2 separate regions of the Homo sapiens genome follow, and region 2 is linked to region 1. Evidence: fine-mapped expression QTL. A gene starts in region 1. The other region holds a variant in brackets. All regions are shown on one strand. Distances are from middle to middle.

Region 1 (4,387 bases):
GTGCACCCCGTTGTGCGGTCCACACCTGAAAGGGGGAGTTTCGATGTTGTGGTTTATTAACCAGGTACTTTCCATTCACTCAGTCAACAGAAAGAAAGAGAGAGACCGCGCCTCCTACTTTTTTTTTTTTTTTTTTTTTAACTACAAATAAGGAGACGGAAACTATTAAATAAGAAGGGGGGAAACTCCCGCATATTTCACCTTGACCTGGCTGGACTGGTCTGCTGCCTCTAAGAGGCGGGTGTTGTATTAAAATGAGAGGTCAAACTCCTCGAATGGGAATCGCTCCTGCCCCTAGAGGGAAAAGAGAACCATCACCGTGTTAAACTGGAAACACTGCCTTGTTTCCAATGCGGGGGACTGAGTTCCCTCCCTCGACTTAGCGTGGTAATGACAGGACCCGAGGAGGCGCGCTGCTTCCGGGCAGTTGCCCAGCATAACACCCGCACCCTACTTGCACCTAAATTTCTGAGCTGCAAGCAGGCAGAAGTGCCTTCCACTTTCTCTCCTTAGCTCCCCTCTCCCCGCTTTGCTGCTGTCTGTAACTTTTTGTTCCGTTTACTGGGAAGGTGACGCTTAAGATCAAAAGACCCACTGTAACTTGCAAAAGCCCAGAGCCACCACCAGACGCTGGGGAAAAACAGGGCTGTCCAGTCCAGGGTTAAGGTTTTGAGCAGAGAAGGAGCAGCGAGAAATCTCGGCCAGTCGCTCCGGGAACAGCCCCTGCAGACTGGTCCAACTCTCCAAAGGCTAGGGACACCGGGGCAGCCTTGTGGTGGGGTAGAGGACGAGCTCCTAACTGCAAGCAAAGTGCTGAGTAGAGGGCGTTGGGGGCAGGGGAGGTCCCTTGACTCCACTTTGTATGCAGCAGCTGCGGGGCAGTGAGTATCTCCGAACAAAGCGGCGAGCAGCGCGGGGGTGAGAGATTGGGGTTTGCTCGCAGCTGCCGCTGGCGCTGAGCGAGTCTCCCACCACCCCCGCGAGCGTTGGGGTGCAAGGATTCGGGGGAGGAGGGAGAAGGGAACGAGGCGTGCCATTCCTGTTGCGCGGCTACGCTTCAGGAGTTCTTGTGAACGATGGGAATGGCAACTATCAGAGCCAAGGGGGAAAAGAAAGAGCTGGAGTGAGCAAAACAAAGAGCGAGTGTGGGCCGCGGTGACTTCATGCCTCACCAATGTCCCGCCCACGCTGCTCCGAGCTGTTACTGCTGCTCCTGCCCGGGCTGCAGCCGCGCCTGCGGGCAGCCGAGGCGAGGCGCTCCGGTAGCGTGGGGAGGTTTCCTAGCAACTCTCTGCCCTGAGTGCACCCGGCTACCCGCAGGTCTGGAGCCCCCCGGGGGGCCAGAGCAGGACCACCCCTCTCCCGCCCATCGCCGGCCTCGCCTCTCTCGCATCCTAGCCGTGTGCACCCCAGAGCGCGCCAGCAACTCGGGCTCTGGACTGCGGGACGCCTGAGCCGCGCACTGAGGCGAAAAGGACAAGGGCACGCAGCCCCCGCCCCGCGAAGCCGGGCTCCGGCACCTCGCGGAACCTCCCCTCCTGCGCTCGCAGCCGCAGGCCCCACTCCCCGCCAGGGAGGGAGCGGCGATGCCTCGCTCTGTGCCTGCGGGTGTCGGCGGGTGCTTCTAGGGCGCTCCCAGAGCCGCCTCCCCCTGTTGCTGGCATCCCGAGCTTCCTCCCTTGCCAGCCAGGACGCTGCCGACTTGTCTTTGCCCGCTGCTCCGCAGACGGGGCTGCAAAGCTGCAACTAATGGTGTTGGCCTCCCTGCCCACCTGTGGAAGCAACTGCGCTGATTGATGCGCCACAGACTTTTTTCCCCTCGACCTCGCCGGCGTCCCCTCCCACAGATCCAGCATCACCCAGTGAATGTACATTAGGGTGGTTTCCCCCCCAGCTTCGGGCTTTGTTTGGGTTTGATTGTGTTTGGCTCTTCGCTAAGCTGATTTATGCAGCAGAAGCCCCACCGGCTGGAGAGAAACAAAAGCTCTTTTCTTTGTCCCGGAGCAGGCTGCGGAGCCCTTGCAGAGCCCTCTCTCCAGTCGCCGCCGGGGCCCTTGGCCGTCGAAGGAGGTGCTTCTCGCGGAGACCGCGGGACCCGCCGTGCCGAGCCGGGAGGGCCGCAGGGGCCCTGAGATGCCGAGCGGTGCCCGGGCCCGCTTACCTGCACCGCTTGCTCCGAGCCGCGGGGTCCGCCTGCTAGGCCTGCGGAAAACGTCCTAGCGACACTCGGCCCGCGGGCCCCGAGGTGCGCCCGGGAGGCGCGAGCCCGCGTCCGGAAGGCAGTCAGGCGGCGGGCGCGGGGCGGGCTGTTTTGCATTATGTGCGGCTCGGCCCTGGCTTTTTTTACCGCTGCATTTGTCTGCCTGCAAAACGACCGGCGAGGTCCCGCCTCGTTCCTCTGGGCAGCCTGGGTGTTTTCACTTGTTCTTGGACTGGGCCAAGGTGGTAAGTTGTTTTGTTTTGTTTTGTTTTCTTCTCTTCCCCAAAGGTCTTGGGCTGGCACGAAGAGCTGCCCGGCCAGAGCATCCCGGCCAGGTAAGTTGCGGTCATCAGAGAACTTCAAGGGGGCGGGTGCGGGGCAGCGTCCTCCAGCACAGATGGCCTAGAGGCCAGGTGTCAAGCATTTCTGCCCTGGAGCGACAGCAAGGACTAATTATCAGAGGAGACACTCTGTGTTACTCCTAGGTGTTGAGGAAGCCCTAATAGAAAGGAATTTTGGAAAAGAGGGTGTCCTGTTTACAGAAGTCATTTAGGGGCCCTGGTCCATTCTTAAGGGCATCGTCTGTACACAATGTTCTCCCTATCTTTCTAACATTTGGGTCCACTAAGGACTAACTTGCCTTTAACTCGAGGCTGTAGATAAGTTGGTTATAATGGGAGTAGTCTTCAATTTTTGAGTCCAGAAAAAGACAGCATACAAGTTTCTGCTATCATTAGTGCTCAATCTGAATGAATTACCCACACTGGAGGGATATTAATGCTTTAAGTCATCATCCTTTCGGCTTAAAAAAAAAAAATACTATCTAATTGATCCCTCACTGAGATCAATCTCTGAGACAGAGAAGCAGAAAGAACTCTGAACCAGGATTAACAGCTTTCTGTCCAGGCAAACCATTTGTGTAAGAGCTACCTTAATGTGGAGAGGTTAACTCTTTACGAAATGCATTGTCCTCATCTGTAAAACGAGGTTTATTAATAATACCTGCCTTCTCTAAATCACAAAGGAAAGTTCAAGTCAAATAGCATATGAGAAGGTGTTTTAGGACTTTTGATTTATGAAACAAAATCAAATGTAAGGTGGTATACCAGATTGGATTGTTGGAAAATTACACAACTAAGTAATAGGACGAATCATGAGTTTAGGATGAGTTCTTAATGGTTTTCAATATAGGCCCAACATTTATTTTTGCTAATGCAGTGACTCTTGTCATACTTTCTTTTTTTTTTTTTTTAATTTCACTTTTTCTCTGTTTGGTCACCAAGTCCTTAAATTATATTAGAGCCTTTCTCTGACCTCTTGGGCTCAAGGAGAGTTTAATTAATAGTTGTAATTGTTTTGTAGGTTAAAATTTACTCCTATACTTTAAAGTGTCAAGGTTTTGCCTGAAGCTAATTAAAACAGTCAAATCATAACCTTATAAGTAGGTTTTATATATATAGATATAGAGATATATGGAAACATCCAGCTATCTTTAGGAAATTGTTGCATATACAGTTTTCTAATATTTGTTTCAGGGAGATTTGCTCAGTTATCTGAAATGGAGAAATTAGAGTAAATCTCTTTATCTTGTGGTTATTTTTTGGCTTGTTTGTTGATTTCAAAATAGTGAAAAGGCAAAGGAAAAAGTAACATTCATTATCAGTTATCTCTTAAATGGAAGAAACATGCATTTGTTGCAGCAAATTTTCCGCTAAGCATAATTTCATCCTGTTTCAATAAGTAATAAAGTGCTTTTCTAGATTTAGTAAACACACATACACACTAGTAAAATGACCAAAATTTGTGTTAACACAGTATATTTTGTTCCCAACGTACAGGCAAAGGAAAAAGTCCTACTTGCCTCTAAAATTTACTATTTAAAGTACATTTTTAAAAACCATTAACTGTGCTTATAAACATTAGTCAGGCTCTTGTGAAAAAGCATTGCATTTCTACCCAGTGTCTAAAACTGATTTGAAGGAAATATTATGAATGGGCCTACTTGCACCTGCAGACCTGAAAAGGGAATGCTTATCTGAAATCAGAACAAGGCATCCTTTTCCCAGTCTCTGTCAATATACAAAGGTTTCTGATGTATACTGATTTGCATGGCAGTTAAAAACATGCAAAAAATGTAAATTATAGCCAGTATAACTCAGAAAATTAGAGATCAGCATAAACTGCTGT
Region 2 (4,387 bases), 150 kb after region 1:
CAGAATGTCAACATGGTTGACACTCTGCTTATAAAATACAGAAACAGATTTTTTTTGTCAGGAGATGAAATTATCTACTTTAAAACCTAGATGACAAGCAGATGGAAAAATAATTCTCTTTTAATCCCCGGCTAGCTGACTCATAGCCAAAAGGATATGGTAATATCAGTTGACAACAGAGCCACCCACTAAAAACATACAACTCACTAAGGAATAATGACTTTGCAGAGGAAGTAAAATTACAGATGTAAGAAATTAGGTCAAAACTTTCTTTTCTAACACCACCAGAAACCTTAAACTACTCTCTAGATAAAATCAACCAAAAAGCTGAATAAGTACATATGAATAGTTTAAATTTTAAGTGTATCACTGAGTTAAAAACAAACAAAAGGATTTGTGGGACCTCCCCATTGCTGCACAGAAAACTCAGGAGATAAGCCAGTGCCAAAGTCACCTCTGAGGGTTTCTGCCCAACCCTGAACACCTGAGTTTCCTCCAGTGACTGCACAATATCCAGGAAACAGGTGATAATGCTTAGCACTTACTCAGAAAAGTGGGAAATCTAATAGGATTTTCTGCCAGCAGTATAAAGATGAAGAAGAAGCAAAACCTGTTACCTAGGAGGAGATAGCAAGGAAATTTGCCTGTCTCAAGCCTTGTCATAGAGGAAGATGAGGTGGGGATGGAGAGAAAAGGGAGAATTCATAACCACAAAATTGCCCTCATAGAGATTTACAGTCTGAATTTACAGCACCTCTATTGTCTGTCAAATCTCTGGTAGAGAATAAAATTTAAAGAATTGGATTTAAATGCCAAGATGACTTTCAGACACAAATAAAAATCTAGGATAGAAATTAGTAAACAGATTCAAACAAATTGTCCAAAATGTAGCCCAGAAAAAATAAAAAACCTATGAAATTAAAAATAGGTTAAGATAACACATCTAGTCAGGGCTCCAAAAGAAATAATAAAGGAAATTGAGATGAAGCAAAATTAGAATAGATAAAGGGTAAGAATTTCTCAGAAATGTTGAAATACACTAGTCATGAGAATGAAAAATGGCAACTATAAATTCAAAATCCAAATGCAATTCCCAAAATCAATAAATTTAACCAAACAAATATAAAATTTCTGTATGGGTTAAAAAAACTCATAATTAAAATGAAAAAACAACAATAAACTAGTAAGAAAAGAGTTAAGGAGAAACAGAAAAGCTTAGGCAAATAGGAAACACATAATAAAATAATAGAACCAATAACATATATTAGTGATCATTATACATTTAAAATAATTCTTCATTTAAAATAAATTTTGTAATATTAAATTCAATATTTTTAAAAACCTGTTAAGTTTTGTTTGTAAGAGTCCCATTATCATAAAGAAATGAAAGAAAATGTGGAAAGAGTGAAAAAGATATATCAGATAAATACTAAACTGAAGAATGCTGGAATACCTATATTAAAACCGGACAAAATAAACATAAAGGCAAAAAAATATTAAAGATAAAGATGGTCGGCCGGGCGTGGTAGCTCACGCCTGTAATCCCAGCACTTTGGGAGGACAAGGCAGGTGGATTACAAGGTCAGGAGATTGAGACCATCCTGGCTAACATGGTGAAACCCCGTCTCTACTAAAAATACAAAAAAATTAGCCAGGCGTGGTGGCAGGTGCCTGTAGTCCCAGCTACTCGGGAGGCTGAGGCAGGAGAACGGCATGAATGCGAGAGGTGGAGCTGGCAGTGAGCCGAGATCGTGCCACTGCACCCCAGCCTGGGCAGCAGGGGGAGACTCTGTCCCAAAAAGGAAAAGAAAAGATAAAAATGGTCACTAAAAAACTAAAAATTGAATTTGAAAAAGAAAAATTGCAATTTTTAATGTTTATATACATAGTAACAAACTTTAAAATGAAGGGCAGAGGGTGGAATTCCATATGACTGATTAACCACAAAGAAGGACCAAAATGGTAAGTAGATAACCATACATCAAATAGAGCTTCTAAGAGAGAACACTGGAATTCAGCAGGAAAGTGACAGGGAACAACTGAGGCATAGAAAGAGAGGAAAGCGAAACAGCCAGCCTGGCTGGGATTGGTTCAAAGCTAGGAGAAACTCTCTATTGTAGGGAAAAGACAACTAAGATATCCCCAGTTGTTCATATTCTCACTATGGACCCCTGCAATCCTAGCCACAAGAGAGTTTCTTTGCCCTTATGGACTCTGATACTAGTACAGGAGATGTCT[G/A]GAGTCTACATAGTGACATTATTCCAGAGAAGGGGTTTGTGCTGAGTCCCACCCACCCCCTGAGACCCAAGCAGCTGCAGCACAGGGCCCTTTTGAGAGCCCAGTCCCCACCAGCTATATCCGCCTCTGGAGCCCAACAGCCCCTGAATCTCCACATTCCTGAAGCTCCACTTCCATCCCCCAACATCCATTCAGAGCACTGTAGCATTGCACCACCAGATGCACCCAGCAATGTGGCTGCGTCTCAAGGACTCTAACCAAGGCAGTGTCCTATACCCTGGGGAACAGGCAGTGCAGCACACTAGGAAAGCTGCCCCCAGGACAAAAGAAGCCAAAGCTTACTCTGCTTGCAGCCTAAGAACTAACTGCCTAAGGAGATTACCGCTGACAACAACCTCACTTCCTCCAGCCTCCTGTATGTACCTTCAGAGGGCCTGGGACTGGCCTGCTCAGGCACTGGGCCTAAGAACAAGCCTGTGTCACTCAGTGCCACTGGTGCCCACATGCATGGTCTGGGGTCCCAAGGATTGATCCACTCAACCTGCTCTGGCTGGCCTGTGCATTCCACCAGGGGGCCTAATGACAGGTCCACCCCACCCACCACTGCCATTGTTGAACATGTGTGCCATCCAGGGATCTGAGGAAAGGCCAGCCCCACCCATTTCCACTGCCACAAGTACCTGTGTGCACTATCAGGGGGCCTGAGAACTGAACCACCAAGCCAACCATCGCCACTGCTAGCACCCCCTACATGCCACTCAGGGGCCTGAGGATTGGACCGCCATTACTATTGCCACCACTGATGTCAACAGGGGCCCAAGAACCCACCCGTTCACCCACTCAGTCCAGCCACCATTGCCACCCAAGCAAGTCACCCGGAGGCCAAAAGGACCTGCCTGCCTAGACCCTTAATCACCATGCCTGGAACATCTCCCAGGGACCTGAGAAAAATCATGCCTGATGTCCTTGTCCCCAGTGGAGCCTTGCCACAGCCTCCACTAACAACTAAAGTCTAAGCCACTAAGTCACAGACACCACTGACACTGATTACAGCTAAAGAAATCATACAGAGACTACACTGCTGCACTCATCCAGAATCAAAGCCAAAGTACCCTACCCAGCCACTATAGATACATCTATAGGAAAATGTCTTTTCCTGTGAAAGCCAATACATAACATTAGGAGAAGCAACAGTTACACCAGATATGCAGATATCAATGTAAGGAACAAGAAACATGATAAAGCAAGGAAACATGACATGTTTCCAAAGAAACACAATTCTCCAGTAACTGGTCCCAACAAAAAGAAAATCCATGAATGGCCTTAAAAATAATTAAAAATAATTATATTAAAGAAATTTGATGGAATACTAGAGAATACAGATAATGCAAATAAATAAGAAAAACACTTCATGATCTACAGAAGAAGTTTAACAAGGAACAGATATCATAAGAGAACCAAATAGAAATCCTGGAACTAAAGAATTCAATAAATGAAAGAAAAAATACAACTGAGAGCTCCAACAACAGACCAAGCAGAAGAAAGAAAGTTGTTGTTGTTTTTTCTTTTTTTTTGAGACAGAGTCTCACTCTGTTGCCAGGCTGGAGTGCAGTGGCATGATCTCAGCTCACTGAAACATCCACCTCCCAGGTTCAAGCAATTCTCCTGCCTCAGCGTCCAAAGTAGCTGGGACTACTGGCATATGCCACCACGCCCAGCTAATTTTTTTGTATTTTTATTAAAGACAGGGTTTTACCATGTTGGCCCGGATGGTCTTGATCTCTTGACCTCGTGATCCACCCATCTTGGCCTCCCAAAGTGCTGGGATTACAGGTGTGAGCGACCGCACCTGGCCAGAAGAAACAATTTCTAAATTTGAAGACAGGTCGTTTGAAATAACCCAGTCAGAAACAAACAAACAAAAAAGAATTTAAAATAATGAAGAAAGTCTCTGTGACATGTGGGAAACAATAAAGCAACCAAATATTCAAATGTTGGGAATTTAAGAAGGGGAAGAGAATATAAAAAACATTAAAAGTCCACTAATAAAATAATTGCTGAAAAAAATCCCAAGTTTAGCAAGAAATTTAAACATCCAGATACTGGAAGCTCAGAGATCCTGAAATAAATATAAACCAAAGGTCTTCTT

Alleles and levels. Alleles are on the strand shown, and positions count from the first base shown. SD is a standard deviation of normalised expression in the study named.
In carriers of allele A in region 2, the expression in non-classical monocytes of the gene that starts at base 2,274 in region 1 tends to be lower than with G alone (large effect, 0.85 SD a copy in Schmiedel 2018).

Evidence for each region. PIP is the estimated chance that this variant, and not a neighbour inherited with it, causes the effect.
Region 2: its variant is the best candidate, but not a certain one, in a credible set for the expression of ITGB8-AS1 in non-classical monocytes (Schmiedel 2018, PIP 0.51).

What each region holds. Positions count from the first base shown.
Region 1 is chr7:20,329,489-20,333,875 of GRCh38, forward strand. It overlaps ITGB8-AS1 (ITGB8 antisense RNA 1), which reads right to left and starts at 2,274. Exons shown (of 3, transcript NR_110120.1): 1 at 2,162-2,274; 2 at 1-25. It overlaps ITGB8 (integrin subunit beta 8), which reads left to right and starts at 1,412. Exons shown (of 14, transcript NM_002214.3): 1 at 1,412-2,445. The coding sequence starts at 2,319. RefSeq lists enhancers at 33-645, 733-802, 903-1,192 and silencers at 1,273-1,662, 2,133-2,372.
Region 2 is chr7:20,484,405-20,488,791 of GRCh38, forward strand. No RefSeq gene overlaps it. Among named protein-coding and RNA genes, the nearest start is that of ABCB5, 130 kb to the right of the region's middle. RefSeq lists an enhancer at 2,662-3,161. The variant G/A (reference allele first, on the strand shown) is at 2,239.